Regions from separate parts of the Homo sapiens genome. Here region 1 is linked to region 2. The links come from fine-mapping of genetic effects on gene expression. A gene starts in region 2. The other region holds a variant in brackets. All regions are shown on one strand. Distances are from middle to middle.

The links. PIP is the estimated chance that this variant, and not a neighbour inherited with it, causes the effect.
Region 1: its variant is fine-mapped to the expression of VSIG8 in whole blood (TOPMed, PIP above 0.99).

The regions. Positions count from the first base shown.
Region 1 is chr1:159,933,172-159,937,554 of GRCh38, forward strand. IGSF9 (immunoglobulin superfamily member 9) reads right to left here. Exons shown (of 21, transcript NM_001135050.2): 5 at 3,583-3,737; 6 at 3,228-3,345; 7 at 1,510-1,651; 8 at 1,254-1,399; 9 at 1,019-1,161. Among named protein-coding and RNA genes, the nearest start is that of TAGLN2, 9.9 kb to the left of the region's middle. RefSeq lists an enhancer at 1,807-2,307. The variant T/C (reference allele first, on the strand shown) is at 2,383.
Region 2 is chr1:159,860,702-159,865,084 of GRCh38, forward strand. VSIG8 (V-set and immunoglobulin domain containing 8) reads right to left here and starts at 1,956. Exons shown (of 7, transcript NM_001013661.1): 1 at 1,772-1,956. The coding sequence starts at 1,820. It overlaps LOC107985216 (a long non-coding RNA gene), which reads left to right. Exons shown (of 2, transcript XR_001738263.2): 2 at 1-4,383. RefSeq lists enhancers at 457-1,371, 1,372-2,284.

The DNA of each region.
Region 1 (4,383 bases), 72 kb after region 2:
AGACTCCATAACTCTCACCTGGGCCATTTCAGCAGCTTCAGAACCCCTCTTCCTATGTCCAGTATCTCCCGCTACATTCCACTGGGCAAGCTCAACCCCTGATCACAGCTCTGATCCTATCACACCAATGCTCAACAAATTCCAGTGGCTCCAACTGCCTGTAGACTTTTTTCTTAAATATTCAACAAAGATATACTGAGTACTATTGTTGTAGAAGCCCCAGGTACACTATGATGAAAAGATGCAATACTAGGCCTCAAAAATTTATAGTCTCTGCAGACAAAAGATCCCAATTGCCTTGGAATGAGGCAATAGTAACTTGGCATCCAGTTCTTCCTTTTGATGCTAACCTGTCTTTCCAGCTTTCTCTGCACCATTCATGTCCCTGCAGGCACTCCGGCTCCCACCCAATTGGACGATCCATGATTCCATAAACGTACTATACTACTTCCTGCCTCTTGACCCTGGTTTCTGCAAGGGAATGACTGTGTCCTCTTTGAGGCCCATCACCAAAGTCCCAGAATCTGTTGCTGGTCTATCCTCAACCACCCTAAGAGGAAGGCACGAGCTCCATCCCTGGCCTTCCAGACAGTGTTGCTGTCCTCTGCCCAGATGGTGCCCACTTTAAGGATGGATGCCTCCTTGCCCCTGCCCTCAACCCACTACCCCACACAGCACCTGGTAAGAAGTGTGTGTTCCCCCGGGACACACAATTTCCCAGTCATCACACGAAAGAAACTTCAGTTCTCCTTCTTGACTCTTTGCCATCATTTTCCCCAGAGATCATCTCTCTTCTTTCCCCAAAGAAGACACAAAACCACCACTTTAAACCATGGAAATTTTTCCTCAGGGGTTTTAAGTAGTTTCCTATGCAACATGTCTTATAACACAAATTAAATTCACAAAAGATGTGTGTCCCCAGTCACTGAACTGAATTAAACCGAGCTAACTCCACCCTGCTGTCCTGAGCAGAATAACGCCAAGCTAAGACCCTCCTTCCCCTGCCCCAAGCCTGTACCTTGTCCAGCTGCAGGGCCTTTCCATCCTTGGTCCAGCTGACAAAGAGCAGTGGGGGGTTGGCACGAACCGGGCAGCGGATCACCCCCGGCATGCCTATGGGCAGGGGTGTCTCAGGAGGCATAGCTGTCACCTGGGCTGGGTCTGGGGGAAAGTAGTGGCAAGTTGGGGGAGAGGGGCTTGGCCTGGCCCAGGGGAAGGGAGCAGGCTGAGGGAGAAGCTGGGGTCAGGCTTACAGAGCACAGTGAGGTAGGCAGAGGCTGAGGGTGGATGCAGGAGGCCATTGCTGGGCACACAGGTGTAGCAGCCGGCATCATCAGGCTGGGTGGCCAGCAGCCGCAGGCTCCCGTCCACCAGGATCCGCACCCGGGGCTGCAGGCGGCTGCAATGTGGCATGTGTGAGGAGGGGTCCAGGCCTTGCCCAGCCAAGCGGCTCTTCAGAGACTGTTTGTGAATTCCCCACCTCCACCTTCCTAATGAGGGTGACCCCACCTAATGTGGAAGACATTGATGTTGTCCTGGAACCAGCTGTAGGTGAGGTTAGCAGGGTATGCCTCAGCATGGCAGGCCAATGAAACATCCTGGGAGGCATTGACTGTGCTGTTCTTGGGGGGCACCACGATGACTGGGGGTCCTGTGGGATGCACAAGGGGAGGAAGGTGGCCTCAGCCCACAGTCTTCCCAGAACCCTGAGGTCACCTCTACAACTCTTCCCAGCTCTGCTCTCTGGAATCTTAGGGCTCGTTGTTACAGGGCTTTGGGGAGTGGAAGCAGAAGCTTCCCCCTGTATGTAACAAGAATTCATCCTCTCCCTGAGACCCATTCTTCTTTCCAAATTCTCTCTGTTCCATCAAGAGCAACTCCATTCATGCAGTTCCACTGCCTAGGAATGGTGTGTGTGTTTGGGGGAGTCAGTTTAACTCTGCTCATTTACCATTTGTATCCCTGCTTGTCACCTCTTGAATTACTTCTCTGTCTCTGGCCCTAACCCAGGTGCCCAATACCTCACCTCAAGATGCTGCAGCAGCCCCTGACTCCAGGCTCCCCTGCAGCTGCCACTCTAATGGCCATTCATACAGAAACAGCCCCTTGAGCCACAGAACACTTCTGCTCAGGAACCTGCAACAGCACCTGGCTCCTACTACACTAAGCTCAAACCCAGCCCTGTGGACCCCTGCGATCCAAACCCTCCCTACGTGGCCAGCCATCTTTCCATATGTCAGCCCTCATGAACTCTTTCAGGTCAGTATGGGCAGCTGGCTGTCCCCCATCTCCATGCCTTTGCTCCCTGCACCCCCGGTCTGGAATGCCCCTCCCAAGGGCCTGGCCGCGCCACATACCTCCTGCAAAAGCACCTCTGGCTAC[T/C]ACAGTTCCACTACTCCTTCCCCTCTCTGGGCCGGTACCGCATGAGCAGTCAGTAAGAAGAGGTCATGATGCGAGCTGACACAACAGAGCACTGACTGCATGCGGGACACTGAGTGCTAAGCACTTTACCTGCACGACCTCGTTTAATCCTCACCAAAAGCTTTGTGGTGGGAATTGTCTCCATTTTCTAGATGAAGAAGTGAAGGCTCAGAGGCAGAGAGATTGTGAGGTGATTGCCCAAGGACAGCAGGAGAGGCAACATTCATATTAGGCTTCCTGATGCCACAGACGACACCTTTAACCATTACCCGGCACTGCCTTTCTTACAGTACCACGGACAGCAACACTTCCCTGTTTCCCCAATTAGTCTCACTTCCCCACAAAGATAATAGGCTCTATGAAGGCACAGTCCAGGCCTTCTGCTTCTCAGTTTCCCTTCTAAAGGAAGGATCTTGGCCAGGAATTACCATGTGCCAGTGACTGGGCTCAGCTGCACCTAAGTAAATTCTTGTAACACACCTGAGAGGTAGAGATGAGTCTCTTTATAAAGATGAAGAAACTGGGACTCAAGGAGTTAACTGGCTCACAGCCTAACACAAGCACCCATGTCCTTTCCACTATAACACACTACTGGGCACTAAGATCGCTTTGTCTGCTTACTGAGCCTTTTAAAATTAAGGTGCTGGTTTCAGAGCAACAGCCTGCATTGGGAACCCCCTTAGCTTCCACGGGCCCTGCCCTCAGGCACAAATCTCCCTCCTATCTTGCTGTGAACCAATTCAGCCACAGGTCACAGCCCCCTTGCATAGGTAACCCTGGACCCCAGCCCTCCCGCCAGAGAGCACCTAGCACTAGCAGCTGGGTGGCGTGGGTGGCGCTGCCCTCAGTGCTGGAGGCTTGGCAGGTGTAGACCCCAGAGCTGCCTCGCTCTACCCGGCGGATCCGCAGCGTCCCGTTCTGCACCTAGGGAAGGAGTGGGTGAGGAAGAGTCCTTTCCCCTGCCAGCCTCAGATCCTGCACTTCCGAGTTTGGCCAGCAGAGGGAGGCAGCACCCCAGGCTCGGGGCAAACAATGCCAAGCCCTTCTTCTGGCCCATCCTCCAGCCTGGCCTTTGCCTCCTCTGTCCTCTGGCCCCACTGCCAGGCCCCCACCTTCCCTTCACACTCTATATGGCTCACTCTGTCCACCCCCAGGACTCACTTGCACCTGGCCCTGGCCCTGGCCAAGGTCCTTTCCTCGGAGCTTCCACGTCACATGAGGCAGGGGGCTGCCACGGGCCACACAACGCAGGGTCACAGGCTCCAGTTCCTGCACTTCCAACACAGCAGGAGGTGTCTCCTGGAATTGAGGGGGTGCTGCAAGGGAGACAGGCATCAGGGGCCCCAGTGGGGCTGTCAGCCCAAAAAGCAGTGTCCAAGGGCCAGGGAGACCACTCAGGGCTCCAGCCTGCTGCCCACCCACCAGCCCTGCCTCATAGGAGTCCTCAGCCCAGGGCCACCCTGTCTACTGCACCCAGGCCAAATGAGGATTCTGTCAACCCACCCCCACACACTGGCCTGGGGCTGAACCCAGGTTGGATGTCCAGAGCCTGGGGGAGAGCCAAGCCCCCTCAGGAGGAGCACTGTTCTGGGAGTGAGGAGGCCTGGGTCCTAGACTCTGCTCTGCCACTAATCAGTGGCATGACTCAGCCTCACCTATGCAATGGGAATGATTATGACCTCCTTCCTACTTAGGAGTGAGAGATAAATAATAAGGGCTTGGGTGAAAAGGTATTTTGAAAACACAAGGTGCTATATATATGTGAGCTGTGTTTCACTCAGGGCCCAAGAGCCCCTCTCTCCCACCCACTTCCCTGGCCAGGGAAGCAGGAGGGAAGAGAAAGAGGGAGTTCCTGACACCGAGCCTAGAAGGCTGATTGAATTTATATTTGAAGAACTGAAAAGGGCAGGAGTGTGGGGGAGGGGTGAGATGCAACTACTAAGTGAGCAAACAAGGGCTCTC
Region 2 (4,383 bases):
CCAGATCCTGAGGCTGCTCAAGGCAAGCCAGGGATGAGCCAGAACTCGGCTGAGAGCAGAGGCTCCACCCTGGAGAAGCACCGCTGGAAGCACCCACACAGGAAGGACTCTCTCCATGCCATAGGAGCCTGCCAGGCAGGATGGTAAGCATTCAGGGAGAGGGGCTTGGGAAGGAGCGACAGGCTGCAAGAAAAGCACCTCCACCCTGCACCAGGCTGAGAGATTCTTCAATTGTCCCAGACCAGGGAGCCTCACCCAGCTTTTCTATCTCCTTAGAAGTCTTCTCAACCTCCTCCCAAGGGTTCCAGCCTTTCCGCACCCCTCCCTCTCCTTGGGAAGTTGCTCCTAATGTCTCACCTTGATTCCTCTTGCTGTAGCACTAAGGAAGTACTACAGGGAATGTGAGAGGAGAGGCTGGAGAGAGGGAAGAAAGGCAAAGTGGAAGAGAGAGCTGGATGGGAGACTTGAGGAGAGACAGGAATGGAGGAATCACATGGGCTCTCCAAGGAAGAGGACAGTGGTGATTCTTTGCCCCCCAAAAGCACCAGAAACTGGCCATGCTTTACGGGGTGTCATCTCAATAGTGGTGCCTACTCTCTGCTTGCAAATTCTTTCTGAATCTTCAAGGTGCTTCCAGAACTCCTGATCTTCCCTCTGGAGGTAAGGGAGGGGAGAAAAGGCGGCTCCAGCTGAGGGTATTGATGCGTTAATGCAGCCAGTGCTGAGTTGTCCTCACACACCCATTGACACACCACACAGGGGGAAGTCCGGGTCCCCACAGCACAGCTGGAGCCTCCCGAGTGGACTCTGCCAGCCCTGCTCTCATCAGACAGAGAAGGGCTGCAGCTATCCTGCCGGAAATGTCATCATTCCCATGCAGGTGCACGCACCCACACACTCACATACACATTCACGCTCACACAAAGGCTGAAAATGTCACCCCGCCTTCCCAAATTCCTCCTTCATGCCCCTTCATCCCAAATCCAGACTGCAAGAGGGACTCGGAGCCCTTTCCAGTGATGTTGGCATAGAATGCCCCTTGGTGGAACTTGCCCCAACCTGGGCAGGAAGCCACAATGTCCAAACTTGAGCCCTGCCCTGTGGACCTGTCCTGGTGGGGTGAGAAGTCTCTGGAGTTGCCATCCCCACCACCCTCAGGCCTCATCCTAGAGTGGGGCACTGCCCTGTCATAGCACAGGGGGCCCAAGGCTGAGGTCTCAGGCCTGAGCTGTCACTGGCCATGATGGAAGAAACCACTCAGACTTACACCAGACTTAGTCTCTTGCCCTTTCAAGGCAAGTGACTTCCCTGCCCCTTGGCCCTGGCCTTGGGAGAGAAGGAGTAGCGTTGGGAATAGCACACAGTCTGATGAAAATTGATCCTTCCCAAGCTCCTCCTGAGCCCTCACCCAATGCCCGTGCTTACCCCTCTCCTACCCCACCTCCAGCTCCTGCAGAGCAATCAATCCCTCTCCTCCTAGTCACGGCATGAGCTTGCAGGGCACCTGCACACATGTGTGAGCCCGACAGGGGACATATAAAGATCCACTCAAAGACCTCTGCACTACAGACACACACCCTGAACATCAGGCACAGGGTCTCCTGGGGAAAGGTCCCCTGGTAATACCCACACCCGGCTGCAGCAGGGCAAGGGTGGGCAGCACCCTGCCAGGCAACTCAGGCAGCCCCAGGCTCCACTGTGAGCCCTTGCTGCCCCTTTCCTTCCCACCTAGCCTCATGCTGGCTACCCTGCCCCCTGCCCAGCCCCGTACCTGGGCTCAGGCACACGAGTAGAAGGTGGAATGCTCCTCCAACTCTCATGTCTCTAGGCTCGGTGTTTCCTCCGTCTGGGCTGGGTATCCCGTGGGGTCGTAGTGGTGGGTGTGAGGGGGTAGGTGGAGGGAGGGGGAGCTGAGGGCCCAGACACTGCCTGGGGTGGCAGGAAGGTGCAATGAGTGCCCAGCTGGGGAGCAGCTGGAGTTATTTCTATGGGAGGGAGGGGGCCTGGTCCCCGCCTTGGGGAGGAGTCCCAGGAACCCTAATTAGCAGGGTGACAGGGTGGCCTACCTGGGCATTACCCAGCCCTCACCCAAGCTCTTCCCTGTCCTAAGAGTGGCACAGGACAGCCAGCGGGACTTGTAATTAGGCACCTGTTAAACTTCACTTCCTCCTGGCCACATCCTCAGGGTGACAACAGTCACCTCATTTACAGCTTCCAAGGGCTCCCCTCACCACTCATTTGCTGCCTCCTTCCCTGGGGGAAGTGGGGAAGAGGAAGGAGAAGCCAGGCTTGGGAGAAAGAGTGGCCAGGACCTGAAGAGTTAATCCTGATCCCAGGGCATAGGGTTCCCCAGGAGTGTCCAGCCCACCTTCCCCCAGGCTTCAGGCCTTTCAAAGGGACTCAGGCCTCCTGAGCTGAAAGAGGAGAGAAGGGGTGTGTGCAGGAACAGAGTCTCCTCCTGGCTGTCCCCTCTGGAACTGTCCTCCACACCCATACTCGACTCAAGGCCATCCCCAAGTGTAGGGGACCCCTGGGAGCAGGGGTGCTATGGGGGGTCCAGGGTGTGTGCTAGGAGTAAGGTGACTGATGGGCTAGTGAGGGAGTGTTGGAGAGAACAGCGCCAAGAGGACCAGGGAAGGGGGTGCCTGTGTAAGCGTGTGCACCCCTCAGCAATGTCTGTGGGAGGGAGGCAGGATGTCTGTGTCAGGGTGTCTCTGTGAGGATGGCTAAGCCCCTCTGAGTGAACTTCTTGAGGGATCGCTTGGTGTCCTGGCTTCTCTGCCCAGAAAGAGTAGCCAGGTCTTGAGGGTTAATGCAGTCCCAGTATTAACTGGGTCCTTGAGACCAAGGACCCTCATAACCTGGACTGGTCATCGGGCTGACTAAACCAGCACAGTTCTGGGTAAGTTCGTGCTGGGGTGGGGAGGGTCCTGGTAGGCATGGGGAGCAAGTGAAGGGCCACCCCTTGTTGGCTTGTCTAAGGGGGACAGAATGGGCATGTGCCTTGTTGGACTCCATGGTGGGAGTCAGGACATGAGTGACCCCATTCAATAGCTCAACTCCCTCAAAGGAGTCAGGGACTGCCCCCATCCCTACCATGGGGCACAGAAAGGGCAGAGGAGGAAGAGTGTTAGGGAGAGTTATGGGGCTCAGGGATGCTGCCAGGGCCCACCCCTCTGGGGAAAAATAAGTCAGAACATTAAGGAAACACAAGGAGTCCACGCGTCTCTGCATTCCAAGCCGTTGCACCTGAACTCCCAACAATAACAGGGCGCTCTGAGACCTACCAGATGTACACAATGAATATCTTTATTTCCTTATTTATTTTTAGGTTTATGGGATTGTCCTGCTCCCTTTGAAGAGCAGGGATCATTATCCCCATTTTACAGATGGGGAAACAGAGACCTGGAGAAACATGGGGATTCAGCCAATGCGGCTGGTGCCTAAGCTGGGATACCCAGGTACCCAGGGTGTCAGTCCAGAGAGGTCCAAAAAATGGTCTTGGTGATCCTGTGGATTACTAGACCCACTCACGAACAAGAACCATGGAAGGTCAGGGTGAGTGGGAGGGAAAACAGGTCAGACCACGAACAGAGAGATTGAGGAGAAAGCAGTAACATTGTGGTTCCACTAAACTACAGTGCAGGCTTCAGATTTAATTGGGTTCTGGATGTGGGCTAATGTTAGAGCTGGGGTTAAGTTTGGGGTTAGTTGAATTATGAATGAGGTTGAGGTCAGATTTGAGGTTGGGATTAGAGTTAAGGTTGGGATTAGGGTTAGAAATACAGCTAGAATTGAGGCTCAGGTTTATGGCTGGGATTTGTGTTACGATAAGGAATAGAGTTTTAGTTTCATTTACAGCTCTGCCTGGGAATACAGTTAGGGCTAAATCAAAGGCTGGGTTTAGATTGATTTAGCATTGGGTTAGAACTAAGTTTGAGATTCACATTGAAATAGGCTGTGGTTAGGGTTGGAACATGGTTTAAAGACACGTAAGCAGCGGGAGTTGATGGGGATCAAAGATGAGGTTTTATTTCTAATATAGAAAGACTTCAGCCTCCATCTGCTAAATCCAGGTTTGGCTAGAATTTTCAATCCTTAGTGCGGGGAGACTACTAATGGCACATGTTGATTGGGGTCCCAAGACTTGGAGGAGGAAGCCAAATGTACACGAGCCCATCTAAGGGGTATGAGGCAACTAAATCCCATAGAGAATGGACCCTCTGAAGTCCTGCTCCACTACTAAAGCTCACCACCTGGCCAAGCTCCAGAAAAACATCTGGGGAGGAGACGCAGGAAGCTACTGACAATGAGTTGGGCTCTGACACCAAACCGAACTAGAAGATGGGGTCCATCAGAGGGAGTCTTACTGAGTGGGGAGGA